2 separate regions of the Homo sapiens genome follow, and region 1 is linked to region 2. Evidence: fine-mapped expression QTL. A gene starts in region 2. The other region holds a variant in brackets. All regions are shown on one strand. Distances are from middle to middle. Region 1 overlaps DDX59 (DEAD-box helicase 59). Region 2 holds the start of DDX59 (DEAD-box helicase 59).

Region 1 (4,529 bases), 27 kb before region 2:
ATATGACAGGTCGTGGATCCAGCTTAGATTTATTAAATTAATCAGTGAGTCACAGTTTAAATATGTGGCAATGATCTTTGTAAAGATGTTATGAAACCAAAAAAACTAAAAAAAAAAAAAAGAACCCACTTTGACTTGTTGAATAAAAAGGTGATTTAAAAAACGTGCTTGGGCCTGGGCGTGGTGGCTCCCAGCACTTTGGGAGGCCAAGATGGGCAGATCACCTGAGGCCTGGAGTTTGAGACCAGCCTGACCAACATGGTGAAACCTTGTCTCTACTAAAAATACAAAAATTAGGCTGGGTGTGGTGGCTCACGCCTGTAATCCCAGCACCATGGGAGGCCAAGGTGGGCGGATCACCTGAGGTCCAGAGTTTGAGACCAGCCTGGCCAACATGGTGAAACCTCATTTCTACTAAAAATACAAAAATTAGGCTGTGTGTGGTGGCTCAGGCCTGTAATCCCAGCACTTTGGGAGGTCGAGGTGGGTGGATCACTAGGTCAAGAGATGGAGACCATCCTGGCCAACATGGTGAAACCCAGTCTCTACTAAAAATACAAAAATTAGCTGGGCGTGGTGGTGTACAGCTGTAGTCCCAGCTACTCAGGAGGCTGAGGCAGGAGAATCACTTGAACCTGGGAGGTGGAGGTTGCAGTGAGCCAAGATAACGCTGCTGCACTCCAGCCTGGACAGCAGAGTGAGACTCCATCTCAAAATAATAATAAAAAAATAAATAAAATAAAAATGTGCTTGGTATTAGAAATACTAATAGAATGGCATTAAAAGTATCTTATAAAGTGGCACTGAATATTCTAGAATCTAAAAGCCACCCCTTAAGGTGTTTGCCATATAAAAGATGTTTGCTTCAATCTGGCAATAAAGCAACCAATTCAGTATTTTTATAATATAGTTACTGTAAAACAAATGTCTGAGAGTGTATGTGATTATTAGTTTTTTTAGCTAATTAAAAATTTAAACTGTATGGTAATTCTCACAAAAATCTATTATTTAAAATTTTATAATATAGTACATTAGTGTCCTTTCTGGGGAAGGATGGTCTCTTATTCAGAGAGTAAGTCCTTCTCTCTTGTTTAGTACTACATGTTTTTTCTTTCATGAACTAATGATAGGTGGTAGCTTTTTAAAAAGAAGATCTTTAATTGGGAAAAAAATACTGGCAACACTGGGACCAAATTTTTTTAAAAGTCTAATGTTCTGGTCTCTAAAATACATAATTGAGGAAACCACTGCATTGCTGCACCCCAGACAACAGAAGAGCAGACATGTGAGACAAGGAAGTTGCCAAAGGAAAGATCTTAAGGAATGAGAAGCAGAAGTCAAGATTCAGAGAGGCAGGAAGAACCAGTAACAGGAGTCTGAAAATTGTGTGGCGAGAGGGAAGTAAAGGGAAGGGCGCTGATAGCCGGCTTCTCCCCTATTGGGTATTTGACATATGCAACTGCGCTTAACTCTCATAATAAGCCTGTGAGTTAGGGGCTCTTTCCTCCACCTCTAACTCATCACCTGGCCTTAAGAAAGTGTGGGTTTCAAGAAGGGTGGCCCACAATGACCGACGCAATAAAAAAGTTTAAAGTGAGAGCTGGCAGAACATGTGGTTTAAGAAGGTCAACAGAGACCACGGGAAGATCATGTATGTACAGTGGTGGGAAGAAGCCAGACTGCCAGCAAATTAAGTAAACCAGTGGGGTTATACTATAGCTAATATTTTTTTGCATTACTACAGTCTCTCAAATAATATTATTTTTGTTAAAATAATAGTTTCCTTTCCAGAACTTTGGCAGGCAGAGGCAGGAGGATCATTTGAGGCCAGGAGTTTGAGACCAGCCTGAGC[AAC/A]ATAGTGAGACAACGCCTGTGGTCCCAGCTACTTGGGAGGCTGAGGTGGGAGGATTGTTGGAGCCTGGGAGGTTAAGGCTGTAGTGAGCCATGATCATGCCACTGCACTCCAGTATAGGGTGACAGGGTGAGATGCTATCTCAAAAAAACAAAACAAAACTACATATCCTGTAAATGCTGTTTTTCTGGCCATGCCACTTTTATTTATAAACAAGTAGGCCAGGCGTGGTGGCTCATGCCTGTAATCCCAGCACTTTAGGAGGCCGAGGCAGGCGGATCACAAAGTCAGGAGATTGAGACCATCCTGGCTAACACAGTGAAACCCCATCTCTACTAAAAATACAAAAAATTAGCCGGGCGTGGTGGCAGGCGCCTGTAGTTCCAGCTACTTGGGAGGCTGAGGAAAGGGAATGGCATGAACCCAGGAGGCAGAGCTTGCAGTGAGCCGAGATCGTGCCACTGCACTCCAGCCTGGGCGACAGAGCGAGACTCTGTCTCAAAACAAAAACAAAAACAAAAACAAACAAAAAACCTATTAATTGAATTAGCAGGGCAACATTCATTCAATAACACAATGACATTATTTTGATAAGTAGCCTATCTTATTTTTAAAACAGCATTAACCAAGCAGAAGGTAAAACAACTGAGAATGAAAGTAGACATTTCATATTTATCTTTCAAAAGTGGTTCTGAAAATTTCTTCCAGTTTCTATCATTTACATTTTTCCTAATTCTCATTTATTCAACAGTAATTTAAGTGCCAATGTGCTTGTGGAACTGTGGGGGAACCAAGTAAAACAATCACTGATCCGAGTCAGAGTCTTTGTGGAGGTTTCTGGTTCTGACAGTAGCTCTGAGGACTGTTTATTTTAAAAAGAAAAAAGAAACTTCATCCAGAAAAGAAAACACTGTCTTTTATTTAATAATTCATTTTCTGATGTTTTTAATTTATAAGAATTAAGGGAAATAAATACAATATAGTTATATAAATTTTATTAAATTAAAAATATCTTAAAATTTTTAAAATTCATGTACATTTCCATTTATGCAAACCATAATTTTTTGCTGACTATATACAATAAAAAAAAATATTCAAGTGGCAGAGAAAATCATTTCTGAGAATTACTTTTATCATGTTTTCTGATAATATCCATAAGATTAGCTCCTGTAACCAGATCATTCTGTGTCTGTTTATCTTTCTGTTGTTCCTTTCTCTTCTGGTCATGAAGGTATGGGGAATTTAATAACTGAGGGGGAAGAATGGATCCTGTGGGCTTTACTCGTTTTGCAATATCCCAGAAGAGTCTTTTTGAATTATTATTGATGAAAGTAATCGCTGTTCCATTTTGACCTAATCTTCCTACTCTTCCAATCTGAAATAAAATGCAAAGAACATTTTCAAGATGTCCATGTAAAATCTTAGTGTCTTTTGAAAGAAAATGAATAATATTACTTAAAGTAGCATTACTGGCTGGGTGCAGTGGCTCACGCCTGTAACCCCAGCACTTTGGGAGCTGAGGCAGGTGGATCACCTGAGGTCAGGAGTTTGAGACCAGCCTGGCCAACGTGGCAAAATCCTGTCTCTACTAAAAACACAAAAATTAGCCAGGCATGGTGGCAAACACCTGTAAATTCTAGCTACTTGGGAGGCTGAGGCAAAAGAATCGCTTGAACCCAGGAGGCGGAGCTTGCAATGAGCTGAGATCGTGCCACTGCACTCCAGCCTGGGTGGCAGAAAAAGACTCCATCTCAAAAAAAAAAAAAAAAAAAAAAGGAGCTTTACTAAGATTAACCTTCATCCAGACAGCATTTTTTGAATTATGCATCTCAATATATCTGTGAAATCAATTTAGTAGGCCTCCACCAGCATATTTTTAATGGAACAGACCAAACAGAAAATAAGAGAGTGATCACATAAAATAAAAGTAAGTATCATTTGTGAAACTTGTGTTTTAGTTATACCTGTATGGGTGGTGTTGGGGGTAATGACATAAAGATGTTTCTTATTGTGGGTGGGTTAAGGTCAAAAAATTCTGAAAGCCCCTGCATTAAGAGCAAGAGGACTATTTACTTCCAAGGCTACTTAAGAGGCCTTGAAATGTGAGATTTATACTAAATCATCTTTGCATAAAGTTATTTGTCTTTTTTTTTTGAGGCGGAGTCTCACTCTGTTGCCCAGGCTGGAGCGCAATGGTGCAATGTCGGCTCACTGCAACCTCCGCCTCCTGGGTTCAAGCAATTCTCTGCCTCAGCTTCCCAAGTAGCTGGGATTACAGGCACCCGCCACCATATCTGGATAATTTTTTGTATTTTTAGTAGAGATGGGGTTTCACCATCTTGACCAGGCTGGTCTTAAACTCCTGACCTTGTGATCTACCTGCCTCAGCCTCCCAAAGTGCTAGGATTACAGGCCCGGCTAGTTATTTCTCATGTTGAGAGAATTAAATGGACACAAATTTATGGAGTATCAATAAGGCACAAAACCTACTTGTCTCCAAATAGATAATGAAAATATACTAAGAAACTCTTCAAAAGAGGGGGAAAATACACAATCATGGTCAATTTCTGCTCCTTAACTGAAATGTAAAACTTAAAGTCTATATTCAGAAATATTTAAATGAGTAGACAGTTTCTGCTAATACAGAGGGCATTTTTAACACTGTAAAAGAAACTTC
Region 2 (4,215 bases):
TCCAAGCTCACACAATTCTTAAGTGTTACAACCCTGGCACTGTGGATCCAGAGCACAAGCTCTCAACCATACGAGGACTAAGCTCTAATTTTTTATCTTACCCAAATTCCTTTCTAAGGGGTCTGGAGAGTCATGCCCTACAAACCATAAATTCTCATCAGATGGGTTTTATTTAACCCTGTATATCGTGACTTACTTTCCAATCTGACTCTGGCCTAACAAGGAAGAAAATAAAAATGTTTTACCCCAAAATATATTTCCTTGTCGTACCTTAAAACTCCCCTGCAAAGTCTCTTGCAGGAAAAATCTGCATTTGGTGAGAATTCCCATCTCCCCTTGTTTTCCCTCCTTCCTTCCCAGATCCAGGAGATAATCAACTAAGAGCCAGGCACCCTTTTAAGTCCAATATAAAACAATTTACAACCTGCTCTCTCTAAAGTCTATCTAAGAGCTTCCTCTGCACAATAAAACTTGGTCTCCACAATCCTTTATCTCTAGCCTGAACATTCCTTTTTATGGATCCCAGGTCTTTAGATAACCTCAACCAGATAACGTTTACATTTACCGATTGAGTTGCCCCGCCTTTCTAAACTAAACCAATGTATTTCTTAAATGTATTTGATGTCTCACGCCTTCCTAAAATAGATAAAACCAAGCTGTACCCCAATTTCCTTGGGCACATGTTCTCAGGACCTCCTGAGGACTGTCACTGGCCATGGTCACTTGAATCTGGCTCAAAATAAATCTCTTCAAATATTTTTCAGAGTTTGATTCTTTTCATCAACCCATATCTATACCTTTTTACACCAAAAACATGTCTTTGCAAAATTACAGTTATTGGGAATAAGGCTTTTAACCTAATCTGGGGACTATCAAATATACTAATAAATATTTTTCTTAAAAAAATTCTTTGTTTAAACTGCCAGATTCCAACTTCCAGAAAAATTCCAACAGAAATGCAACCGAGGGTCTAGAATTACTATCCTAAATCTCCGAAAATGTACAGGGGGTGGCGGGCGGGGCAGGGACGGCTCTAGGTGAGCAGGAAAAAGCTTGGAACTCAGTCTTCCAATGGCGAAAGGGAACGTGCTCCTGCTGGGCGGGACGGCGGACGGCTGGCGGCGGCGCGGCCTCCAATTCTCGCCAACGCGCCCCGCACCCCCGTGCACTGGCGGGCCCTCCCCTCGGGCGTTGCCTCCCACCCACGCCCGGCGGCACCGCACCCCGAGGCGCTTCACGTCACGGAGCTGCTAGGAGACGGGCGGGGCTCCGGTTCCGGGTAGAGGCCTGGGACACGGGGAACTGTAAGGATGGGAGGAAGGCCGCGCAGGGGCACCAGTTCTGCCGCCGCGGCCTAGCGCCCCAGGTCCCGGAGAAGGGGCACCAGGGCGGCCAGGGGCCCAAGCTTCCGGGGCACGCTCACCCGCGCAGGACTGAGGCCGCGTCCGCTCCCGCTCCCGCTCGGGCCGTCTCCCCCTTCCAGGCTCCAGGCCAGGCTTCCGCCCGACAAGCCCTGACCCGCTCGTCAGGACTGCGGCCCGGGGTTGGTGGTGCGGAGCGGAGCGGAGCGGAGCGTAGAGTAGAATCCACTTCCCCGGGTTTTGGGAGGGGGCCGCAGCCCGCTTTCCGGGCGGCGGGGAGGCGGGGCCACCGCGGGGGCGGAGCTCGGCTGGGAGCCGGCAGTGGCTTGGGAGGGAGGGAGGGAGAAGGAGAGGGGCGGGAAGGCTCCTCGCGTTTTCCACGCCCCCGCCCAGCTCTGGGCTGGTGGTAAATCTCGGAACTGGTCCGGGCTGGGCGAGTTCTGGACGGAGGGGCACGTTTGGGAATCCTCTTGGAAGAATTTACGTAATCGAATGGGCTGGGACTGGTGGAAAAGAGTTGGACCGTCCGGAAAGAAGCAGGAGGGCGGCGCGGGGGCCTGGCACCCTTAGAAAGTGGGAAGTGTGAGTGTAAAAGGGAGGGGCACTTCTGCCCGTTGGGCCCAAAAACCCTTTTCTGGCTTTAGCTAGTAGAGCCACTCAAAATTTAAACGGAGTCAGCTTGATGTGGCATATATGATAAGCTGGATAATATTTCCTGCACCACCGCACCCCTCCCCCCACCCCAACACCAACAAGAAAATAACACAAGTCACGGTTCTTGTTCCTTGTGGGCTGACATTTCCCTGTTTTGCCAACCTCTGGAGCCACGTGTCCCAAGCAGCTTGTAGTTGAGAAGTGATGGGGGAGAGGAGACAGCACGGGAGAGGAAGGAGGGAAGCCAGCTTATATTCAGGTGCCTTAAGTATTTAAAAATATTTTCAGTGTAATAGTCGATGCATTCAAAAGAGCATATTTACCAAATATGTAAAATTTAAAGTATGCTAATGAAACTATCACTCCACCACGTTATCAGTATTTAGCATGTATCTATGCATCTCCAGGATTCTACTCCTGGCCTCTTAGCTCACCACCACTATCTTCAGTTTTGTCCCTCTTTGCCATTTTTAGTGGTTTTATCATATTTGGATGCATTCCTGTGTATTGGTGTATTTTTCTTCTTTTTGAGCTTTATAAAAATACATATAGCCTGGAATTCGCTTTTTATCACTCAACATTTGTTTTTTTGGTTCATCCAAGTTGTTACGTGTAGTAACAGAACATTTATTTCTTACTGCCTAGTCAAAAGGAAGTTTTCTCCTGTCAGGAATGTATTCAATACTGTAGCGGATAGGATTATAAATGCACTTTAAGTATTTTCTTTATTGATGGGAACCACACAGACTAAATGTATCAGACTTCCCAAGTTCGTAGGTCACATACCTATAACAGAACTCTTTTCCTGGGTTTTGTGACATTTCTAATTGTTGTAATTTCTTTTGCCATTATAAAAATTAGTCACTTTTGAACCTAATTTGTATTCATCATTCTGAATCTTTTTCTTTAAAAGCCTCCTCTTTTCCAATTATATAAGCTCATACCCCATAAAACCTGAATCTGCCCCTAGTAATTACTAATAAGGCTAGTAGGAGCATTCTTGTTCACCTTCTGTGCATGCGCTGGACTCTAATTTGAACCTAGGATTAGCACTGCGGCATCAGAGGCTATGGGGGCTGTTCAGCTTTCAAAGATAAAGCAGAAATGTTTTCAAAGTGGTTGTACCAATCTATACTGCCACCAGTACCGACCACAATTCTCTCTAAATCCTCGTTATTTTCACACTTCTTACTTTTTGCTAGTCTACCCAGAATAAATACCATGTTTTTGTCTTAATTTGCATTCCGTAATTACTGATAAGGCTGAGCACTTTGAAATATGTTATTCATTCATGTTTTCTCTTCCTCTTCTAAGGATGTGTGTGTGTGTACATATATAAATGTATATATAATGTATATATGTATATATAATGAAACATTCTTTTGTTAATTGTAGGTGTTGCAGATATCTTCTCCCTGTTTATAGTGTGTTTTCAAATAAAAAAATTTTTTGACTTATTTTGAAAAAATCAACCTTATCAAAAAGTTTCAGAATTAATGAACTCCTGTATACCCTTCACATAAGTTCACAGTTTGCTATATTTGCTATATTAGTGTGTAGGAGAGATTATATATATAAAATATGTATACTATAGATATATATTTTTTTCTGAACCATTTAGGAGTAAGTTGTAGCATGTGTCTCCAAAGACAATGATATTCTCTTTTATACTCACAGAAAAATGTTCCAGTTGAGGTTGTTTGTTTTTTGAGACAAGGTCTCACTCTGTTACCCAGGCTGGAGTGCAGTGGTGCGATCTCGGCTCATTGCAACCACCTCCCGGGCTCAAGTGAGGCTCCCACCTCAGCATCCCGAGTAGCTAGGACTACAGGCACACCCCACCTGTTAGAGAGAATTTTTTTGTTGTTAGAGATGGGGTTTTGCCATGTTGCCCACGGTGGTCTCCAACTGCTAGGCTCAAGCTATCCACTTGCCTTGGCCTCCGAAAGTGCTGGGATTACAGGTATGAGCCACTGGGCCTGGCTCAAATTTAGGTAGTTTAACATTGATGAAGTAAGAGTAGCTAGGACTACAGGCACACCCCACCTGTTAGAGAGAATTTTTTTGTTGTTAGAGATGGGGTTTTGCCATGTTGCCCACGGGGGTCTCCAACTGCTAGGCTCAAGCTATCCACCTGCCTTGGCCTCCGAAAGTGCTGGGATTACAGGTATGAGCCACTGGGCCTGGCTCAAATTTAGGT

Evidence for each region. PIP is the estimated chance that this variant, and not a neighbour inherited with it, causes the effect. A credible set is the group of variants that fine-mapping cannot tell apart.
Region 1: its variant is the best candidate, but not a certain one, in a credible set for the expression of DDX59 in whole blood (INTERVAL, PIP 0.70).

What each region holds. Positions count from the first base shown.
Region 1 is chr1:200,641,291-200,645,819 of GRCh38, forward strand. DDX59 (DEAD-box helicase 59) reads right to left here. Exons shown (of 8, transcript NM_001031725.6): 8 at 2,747-3,227. The coding sequence ends at 2,964. Among named protein-coding and RNA genes, the nearest start is that of KIF14, 23 kb to the left of the region's middle. The variant AAC/A (reference allele first, on the strand shown) is at 1,853.
Region 2 is chr1:200,668,344-200,672,558 of GRCh38, forward strand. DDX59 (DEAD-box helicase 59) reads right to left here and starts at 1,564. Exons shown (of 8, transcript NM_001031725.6): 1 at 1,424-1,564. DDX59-AS1 (DDX59 antisense RNA 1) reads left to right here and starts at 1,164. Exons shown (of 3, transcript NR_110787.1): 1 at 1,164-1,279. RefSeq lists a silencer at 978-1,717.